2 linked regions of the Homo sapiens genome follow. The protein of the gene in region 1 purifies or fractionates together with the protein of each later gene. This does not show direct contact. Each region holds a gene or a part of one and is shown in the gene's direction. Other genes may lie near its edges.

Evidence for each region. The genes of interacting proteins can lie anywhere in the genome.
Region 2: the proteins of ANKLE2 (region 1) and PPP2R2A purify together in Homo sapiens (pull-down; one study listed by IntAct). This does not show direct contact.

Annotation. Positions count from the first base shown.
Region 1 is NC_000012.12:132,750,872-132,756,210, reverse strand, and holds part of ANKLE2 (ankyrin repeat and LEM domain-containing protein 2), read left to right. Parts: intron 1-1,077; coding exon 1,078-1,536; intron 1,537-5,339. UniProt on the Homo sapiens protein: Involved in mitotic nuclear envelope reassembly by promoting dephosphorylation of BAF/BANF1 during mitotic exit.
Region 2 is NC_000008.11:26,357,503-26,361,333, forward strand, and holds part of PPP2R2A (serine/threonine-protein phosphatase 2A 55 kDa regulatory subunit B alpha isoform), read left to right. Parts: intron 1-2,666; coding exon 2,667-2,779; intron 2,780-3,471; coding exon 3,472-3,649; intron 3,650-3,831. UniProt on the Homo sapiens protein: Substrate-recognition subunit of protein phosphatase 2A (PP2A) that plays a key role in cell cycle by controlling mitosis entry and exit. Involved in chromosome clustering during late mitosis by mediating dephosphorylation of MKI67.

The DNA of each region.
Region 1 (5,339 bases):
TTTAGTAGAGACAGGGTTTCACCATGTTGGCCAGGCTGGTCTCGAACTCCCGACCTCAGGTGATCTGCCTGCCTCCCAAAGAATACAACGGGCTGGGCATGGTGGCTTATGCCTGTAATCCCAGCACTTTGGGAGGTTGGGAGTTCAAGACCAGCCTGACCAACATGGAGAAACCCCGTCTCTACTAAAAGTACAAAATTAGCTGGGCGTGGTGGTGCACGCCTGTAATCCCAGCTACTCGGGAGGCTTGAGGCAGGAGAACCGCTTGAACCCAGGAGGCAGAGGTTGCAGTGAGCTGAGATCGCACCACTGCACTCCAGCCTGCCTGGTGACAGAGCGAGACTCCGTCTCAAAAAGAAAAAAGGCTCACGCCTGTAATCCAAACACTTTGGGAGGCCAAGGCAGGTGGATCACCTGAGGTCGGGAGTGCAAGACCAACCTGGCCAACATGGTGAAACCCCGTCTCTCCTAAAAATACAAAAATTAGCTAGGTGTGATTCCAGGCGCCTGTAGTCCCAGCTACTTGGGAGGCTGAGGCTGGAGAATCACTTGAACTCAGGAGGTAGAGGTTGCAGTGAGCTGCGATAGCACCACTGCACTCCAGCCTGTGCGACAGAGGGAGACACCATCTCGAAAAAAAAAAGAAAAATTCTTTTTTTTTTTTTGAGCTGGAGTTTCGCTCTTGTTGTCTAAGCTGGAGTGCAGGGGTGTGATCTCGGCTAATTGCAGCCTCCGCCTCCTGGGTTCAAGCGATTCTCCAGCCTCAGCCTCCCAAGTAGCTGGGATTACAGGCATCCGCCACCACACCCGGCTAATTTTTTGTATTTTCAGTAGAGACGTGGTTTCACCATGTTGGCCGGGCTGGTCTCGAACTCCTGACCTCAGATGATCCGCCCGCCTCAGCCTCCCAAAATGCTGGGATTACAGGCGTGAGCCACCGCGTCCAGCCAAGAAAAAAAGTTTTTAATGAAAGAAACAGAAACTGATGCCATTATATAATGAACCCTAGTACCCATCACCCAGCTTCAGCAGGTGTTAGTATTTTGTGACTCTTTGATTTTTTTGTCTTGGGCCTAGGTGAAATGACAATGGATGCTCTGTTGGCTCGATTGAAACTTCTGAATCCAGATGACCTTAGAGAAGAAATCGTCAAAGCCGGATTGAAATGTGGACCCATTACATCAACTACAAGGTTCATTTTTGAGAAAAAATTGGCTCAGGCTTTACTGGAGCAAGGAGGAAGGCTGTCTTCTTTCTACCACCATGAGGCAGGTGTCACAGCTCTCAGCCAGGACCCACAAAGGATTTTGAAGCCAGCTGAAGGGAACCCAACTGATCAGGCTGGTTTTTCTGAAGACAGAGATTTTGGTTACAGTGTGGGCCTGAATCCTCCAGAGGAGGAAGCTGTGACATCCAAGACCTGCTCGGTGCCCCCTAGTGACACCGACACCTACAGAGCTGGAGCGACTGCGTCTAAGGAGCCGCCCCTGTACTATGGGGTGTGTCCAGTGTATGAGGACGTCCCAGCGAGAAATGGTAATGGGACCGTGTGTAGGATTTCCTCACACAGATAGCACATACGCGGAGGGGCGGGATGACGTCTGAAAATGGAAAACTACAGATTAAGAAGGAAAAAATCCAATCCCCTCCATCTCATCACCCCAGTTAACCATTGTTAACATTTTTATGTAGAACTTTTCTGAAATATTTGTGAATTTAACATGAGAACTGTTAAAATTTGTGAGGTAAATTGGATTCTATGAGATATGCTGGACTGAGATATTAATATTAACTGGCTGCTGCTGTTGGTTAGGAACTTTGTTGATTAGTCATCTCCGCCTTTTTAAAATGCAGTGTAACCTGCACATCTTTTATGTTAATGAATGCAAATGGCCAATGAGTGTATAAATACTTTTCAGCATCAAAGATTTGTGGTTTTATTTTGTTTTTATTTATTTATTTATTTTTTGAGACAAAGTCTCACTCTGTTGCCCAGGCCAGAGTGCAGTGGCGTGATCTCAGCTCACTGCAACCTCTCCCCTCCCAGTTTAAGCGATTCTCCTGCCTCAGCCTCCTGAGTAGCTGGGATTACAGGCGCCTGCCACCGCGCCTGGCTAATTTTTTGTATTTTTAGTAGAGACGGGGTTTCACCATCTTGGCCAGGCTGGTCTTGAACTCCTGACCTCATGATCCACCTGCCTTGGCCTCCCAAAGTGCTGAGATTACAGGCTTGAGCCACCGCGCCTGGCCATTTTATTTTTTTAATTTATTCATTCATCTGAAACAGGGTGTTACTCTGCCACCTAGGCTGCATTGCAGTGGTGCAGTCACAGCTCACTGCAGCCTCAACCTTTCTGGCTCAGGTGATCCTCCCACCTCAGCCGCTTGAGTAGCTGGGACCACAGGCATACGCCACCACGCACAGCTAATTTTTATGGTTTTTTTTTGTTTTGTTTTGTTTTGTTTTTTTGAGACAGAGTCTCGCACTGTCACCTGGGCTGGAGTGCAGTGGTGCGATCTCAGCTCACTGTAACCTCAGCCTCCTGAGTAGCTGGGAACTACAGGCGCCCGCCACCATACCCAGCTAATTTTTTATTTTTTGTATTTTTAGTAGAGACAAGGTTTCGCGATTTTGGCCAAGCTGGTCTCGAACCCCTGACGTCGTGATCTGCCCACCTCGGCCTCCCAAAGTTCTGGGATTACAGGTGTGAGCCATCACGCCCAGCCAATTTTTGTATTTTTTATAGAGGCGGGGTTTCGCCACGTTGCCCACGCTTCTCTCGAACTGCCCTCAAGCGATCCACCCACCTTGGTCTCCCAAAGTGCTAAGATTACAGGCACACACCAGCACGCCTAGCTAATTGGTTGTTTTTGGTGGTTTTTTTTTTTGAGACTGGGGTCTCTCTCTCACCCAGGTTGGGGTGTAGTGATGCAATCTCAACAACTCACTGCAATGTCTGCCTACCAGGCTCAAGGAGTCCTCCCACCTCAGCCTCCGGAGTAGCTTGGGATCGCTGGGATCACGGGCACGTGCCAGTACGCGCCAGTTTTTTTGTATTCTTGGTAGAGACAATGTTTCCCCATGTTGCCCAGGCTGGTCTCCCAACTCCTGGGCTCAAGTGATCTGCCAGGCTCAGCCTCCCGAAGTGCTGGGATTACAGGCGTGAGCCACCTCGCCTGGCCACACCTAGGTAATTAAATTTTTTTTTTTTTTTTTAAGAGACTGGGTCTCGCTTTATTGCTTAGTCTGGTCTTGAACTCCTGGCTTCAAGCAGTCCTCCCACCTGAGCCTCCCAAAGTGCTGAGATTACAGGTGTGAGCCACTGTGCCCAGCCCAAGAATTGTAATTTTAAAGAAGATTTAGCATTGGAAAAAAGAAATGAGAACTCAGTATTAATTGGGATGCCAGAAATTGCACACTGTTATGAGTATTGTTATTACTGTGATACCATTTGTGGTGACGCCTATGAGTACATAATTGGTTAAACACTATGAATAGAATGGAATATTGTTCTGTAAGATCTTTTTAAAGAATACGTAGGGGCCGGGCGCGGTGGCTCACGCCTGTAATCCCAGCACTTTGGGAGGCCGAGGCAGGCAGATCACGAGGTCAGGAGATCGAGACCATCCTGGCTAACACGGTGAAGCCCCGTCTTTACTAAAAATACAGAAAATTAGCGGGGTGTGGTGGTGGGCACCTGTAGTCCCAGCTACTTAGGAGGCTGAGGTTGCAGTGAGCTGAGATTGTGCCACTGCATTCCAGCCTGAGCGACAGAGCTAGATTCCATCTCAAAAAAAAGAAAGTAACACTGGGAAATGATCATGGTGCAGTTTTTATTTTTATTATTTATTTATTTATTTACTTATTATTTGAGACAGAGTCCCGGTCTGTCGCCAGGCCGGAGTGCAGTGGTGCGATCTTGGCTCACTCCAACCTCTGCCTTTTGGGTTCCAGTGATTTTCCTGCTGCAGCCTCCCGAGTAGCTAGTACTACAGGGGTGTGCCACCACGCCCGGCTAATTTTATATTTTTAGTAGAGACAGGGTTTCTCCACGTTGGTCAGGCTGGTCTCAAACTCTCAACGTCAGGTGATCCACCTGCCTCAGCCTCCCAAAGTGCTGGGATTACAGGCGTGAGCCACCGTGCCCGAACTATGGCTATTTTTATCCAGTAGTGGACAGTAACCATTCGTCTGTTACATTGTTCATAAATTTTTGTCTCCTGGCCAGTAGTGTATATCTTATGTATTTACGATAGTCTCATACAAAACTTAATTGTGATAGTTCCACTACAGAGCTTTAATATTTTTATATAATCAGGATTATCTTGTTTTGAATGGTTTCTTGGCATGTTTAAAAAGGCATTCCCAGCCGGGTACAGTGGCTCATGCCTGTAATCCCAGCACTTTGGGAGGCTGAGGTGGGCAGGTCACCTAAGGTCAGGAGTTCAAGACTAGCCTGGCCAACATGGTGAAACCCCGTCTCTACTAAAAATACAACAATTAGCCAGGCATGGTGGCCGGTGCCTATAATCCCAGCTACACGGGAGGCTGAGACGGGAGAATCGCTTGGACCTGGGAGATGATGGTCGCAGTGAGCCAAGATCACACCACTGCACTCCAGCCTCGGCAGCTGAGTGAGACTCCATGTCAAAAAAAAACAGCCATTCCCGGCTGGGCGCCGTGGCTGACACCTGTAATCCCAGCACTCTGGGAGGCCGAGGCGGACAGATCACCTGAGGTCAGGAGTTTGAGACCAGCCTGGCCAACATGATGAAACCCCGTCTCTACTAAAAATACAAAAAATTAGGCATGGTGGCGGATGCCCATAATCCCAGCTACTCGGGAGGCTGAGGCGGGAGAATCGCTTGAACCTGGGAGGCAGAGGTTGCAAGAGCCAAGATCGTGCCACTGCACTTGAGCTTGAGCGACAGAGCGAGACTCCGTCTCCAAAAAAAAAAATAAAGTAAAAAATAAAAAGGCGTTCCCTGTTCAAAATTGTGTTTAAAATTCTCTTATGTTCTTGGCTGACATAATTATAGTTTTTTTTTTTAATTTGCCTTTTAATAATTTTTATTTAGATCTTTATATGAAATTTAGTTTTTAGGATAGAATCTTGGCATATAGAATTACATATATGAACATAATATATATCATGTTACATGCATATATGCACACTGTCGAGCTTGTTAATTGTTCTATTTTGGCTAGCTTAGGCCCTTTTTCTTCAGGATTAAAGATCTGAACTAAGCCAGGCGACTGGGTAGCAGATGTGGAAGCTGATGGTTAGGCCCAGGGCATGGCCAGGTGACAGCTCTCCAGTCACTCTTCTCTGATTTTC
Region 2 (3,831 bases), on another chromosome or scaffold:
CAAGCATTTTAATTCTCTTTCTCTTTAATCTTCTTTTGCTCCTCTGAATTCTCATTAATTCCTCTACATTGCAGAAAACATGAAACTGACCTGTCAACCATGAGTGTTACATATATGAATAATGTAAAGTTCACTCATAAATAGGGTGTGTCTTAACAACTTCTTGATAAGTTTTTTAGGGTCTTACATAAAGCTGCATTCCCACAAAGGAAACGGCAGCGTGGTTTTCCCTGCTCATACCTCTCATACCTTCTGCTTGTGGTGAGAGGAACTCTGTTCTTCTGCAGTTTCTCCAATGCTTTAGTTATTAGTGTTGATAATTCAGGGGAACACCACAGTGTGGTCGTTTTGGAAGGAACAGATCTTGAGAATCTAATAACGTCTCCACTGAAAACTGTGTTTTTACATAATCTCACATACAGTTTTATGGAGTTTGATTATTCTCACATACTTTGTCTTATGGGCCAAAAACTCCAGGTAATAAAATATCACTGCTGTAGAACATAAGGATTCTGATTTTTTAAAAATTTATGTCATATTTATTAACATACTGATTTATTTCCTGCCTGCCTTGTCCCCACCTTACTGAAAAATGTATCCTAATTCATATGTGTCCTGTGTTTGTGTTAAGGAAAAAACATTTTTTAAAGAGCTTTCTTCCTGTAAACACTATTAGGCACCACAAACTAATTTTATCTCATCTGAAAGTTTCATAAATACATTGTGGTTTCTTTATTTGGATCTTTAATAAGGAGGATGGATTTAAACAGGCCACAAGACAACTGGACCAGGGGGCGGGGGTGTTGTCATCCTCATCACAAATACTTTGCAAGTATTTAGAACAAATACTTCTCAGAATACAGATTTAGGCTAGGCTCATATCTATCTATAAATCATATACATATATAAACTAAATAACACATAGAAAATCTGTATGACTGAACTACAAGAAAATTATAAGCAAGGTCACATAGGGCTTAGAAGAAATAATAGATTACAGATGATTAAAGTTAGCAGTTTTTCTCTGTTTACACTTCATCATTGGGAAGGGCATCCTTAGGGGCAACTATCATTCTTCTGTACGATACAGAGACTGCCAGGCTAGAGTCACTGGCATCTCTCTGAGTTGTTTCTGTTTTTATAAAATGGCTTTATATACTGTTATAAACAATTTTGTTACACCATTTTGCTTATGAAAGATCGTTAGGAATGTATGCTTTTCTATAAGAAAAACTGTTATACAATTGTAACAGTTTTAAATCAACATGCATGAGCCTATAGTGATACAAATAAACAATTGAATGGATACATGGAGAGCAGGGATGCTTCCTGCAGGAGAATTCTAAATAAGACGTGGATACATACTCTTCCCTACAGGGAGTATAACTTATTTCTCCCTTTAAGTACAGGCTGGATTTAGTGACTCACTTCCAAAGAACAGAATATGGCAAGGGTGAAAGAGTCATTGTATAGTGGAGAAGCCTGGCAAACATTGTCTTAACCAAATGACCCAAGTTAACGCCACCAGCTGTAAGTCATGTTGATACCATGTATCCCTTTGAACAATGCTGTGAGAAGTCACTTCATCTCTCTGTTCTGTTCCTAAAAACCCATGGTCCCAGTCTGATCATGAGGAAAGAGCAAGCAAATCCAGTTGAGGGATATTCTACAAAGTACCTCACCACCACTACTCAAAACTGTCAAGATCAAGAAAAATAAGGAGAGCCTGAGAAACTTAAAGGCAGAGAGACTAAGGAAACTTGATGACTAAATGCAGTGTTGTTTGAATTCTGGAGCAGAAAAGGAATGTTAGTGGAAAACCTGGTTAAATCTCCAAATGCAGTCTGTAGTTAATAGTAATATACAAAGTCGACGTCTTAGTTTTGACACACGTACCATGGTTGCGTAAGATGTTGACAGAAGAAACTGGGTAAAGGATATATGGAACACTGCAATTCTTGTAACTTTCTGTAAATCTAAACTTAATTGTAAAACAAAAGTTTGTTTTTAAACAGATGCCATTTTATATATCCTTGATACCTAGGAATTTGGTTTCTTCTTGAAGGACTTGGGGATGTATGCTTTTAATCAGTTTTCTTCAGGCCCTGTTTCCTACTTGTGAACCCTGATACAAGAAGGGGAAAGGTTTTAAAAAGGAGGCATCCAGTCCTATGGAGGCCTCTGTGGAATCTTTGATAGGCTCTGCTAAGAAGTGGGAGCAAGGGAGAGCAGCTTTACTATTTTGATTCTACATAATAGGCAGTCTTAATCAACTTCATTGTTCCCTTTAAATTTTTTAAAATTCAGTACTGAACATGTATATGTTTACATGTAGGTACAGACATATATGTGTTTGCATACACCACACATGCATATCAAGTTTTTCCCTCTAGCTTTAATTACTTTTAAGGGACAGGGATAGAGACCTGTCTGTGACTTGATTTGACTATCACATGGAATTTATGAGTGCCACCAATCTTTGCACTTTATTTCCATGTGTGTATGTTATTCAGCTGATAATAGGAAATTTTTTAGTAAGTTCAGATTAGGGTTTTTTTTTTTTTCGTGGAATCCTTTTACGTGAAATGTGAAATAGCATATTTTAAATGCCTTAAAATGTTTTTCTTCTTCAGTATTTTAAGGACTTTTCTTTATTTTCTTCCCAGATAAAACAATAAAATTATGGAAAATCAGTGAAAGGGACAAAAGACCAGAAGGGTATAACTTGAAAGAGGAGGATGGAAGGTATAGAGATCCTACTACAGTTACTACACTACGAGTAAGTACATAAGAAAAAAATGTCACAGATAGTGCTTGTATTCATATTATATAGCCCAAATCCTGAGCAGAGCTTGAATAGGAATAATTACAGTCTATCTCCCCTTTCCCAGTAATTCTGTAATCAGGTAGGACATTGAGTAACTCATTTAAACATAGAAACTGACCTACATAGAGGTCTCACTTTGGCCAGGGACAGAAGCAGGACTCAAGCACAAGACAGTATTTCACGCCATCAGACTTCATCTCTGGTTTGTCATGTTAGCTATCACAAGGTCAAGTTTCAAGATAAATTTTCTTTGGAAATCAAAAAAGTAGATACAGATCAAATCTTCTAGTTGTAGCTAAAAAATACCAAGAATTAGATGTTATGGGTTAATTTTCTTTTTAGCCTCTTTAATCTGAACCATAAACATTTATTAGCTTGGCATGTCTTTCAAGCAAAATATTGAAACTAAGAACTGCAAATTCTAATAGTATTGCAACCAGTAAAAGAAGATATATTATCCACATTGTTCATTTTTTCTTCAGCACTCGAAAGGATCAACATCAGTTGCTTTTTAAAACTAAATCTATGTAATATTGTTCTATTTTATGTTCTCAAAAACTGAAATAATGAAGTTTTCTGAATCTTAATTGCTATTTGAAACTGAGCCTTTTGTAATTTCTGTTTTTCATGTGTCTTATTGACAGGTGCCAGTCTTTAGGCCTATGGATCTAATGGTTGAGGCCAGTCCACGAAGAATATTTGCCAATGCTCATACATATCACATCAACTCAATTTCTATTAATAGTGATTATGAAACATATTTATCTGCAGATGATTTGCGGATTAATCTTTGGCATCTGGAAATTACAGACAGGAGTTTTAGTATCCATTTGGTTTTCTTTGGTGTTTGGTGAAGAAGGCATGTTGTGCCCATATTAGATTTATTTCATCTCTCCTAATGAATTTGGTTGCTTTTTATAGTCTGTGTACATATATGTATGGCACCTTATTTTTTTCTTTGTAGATGAGTAATGAAATACTGGAAAAAGTTATTTGCTAAACAT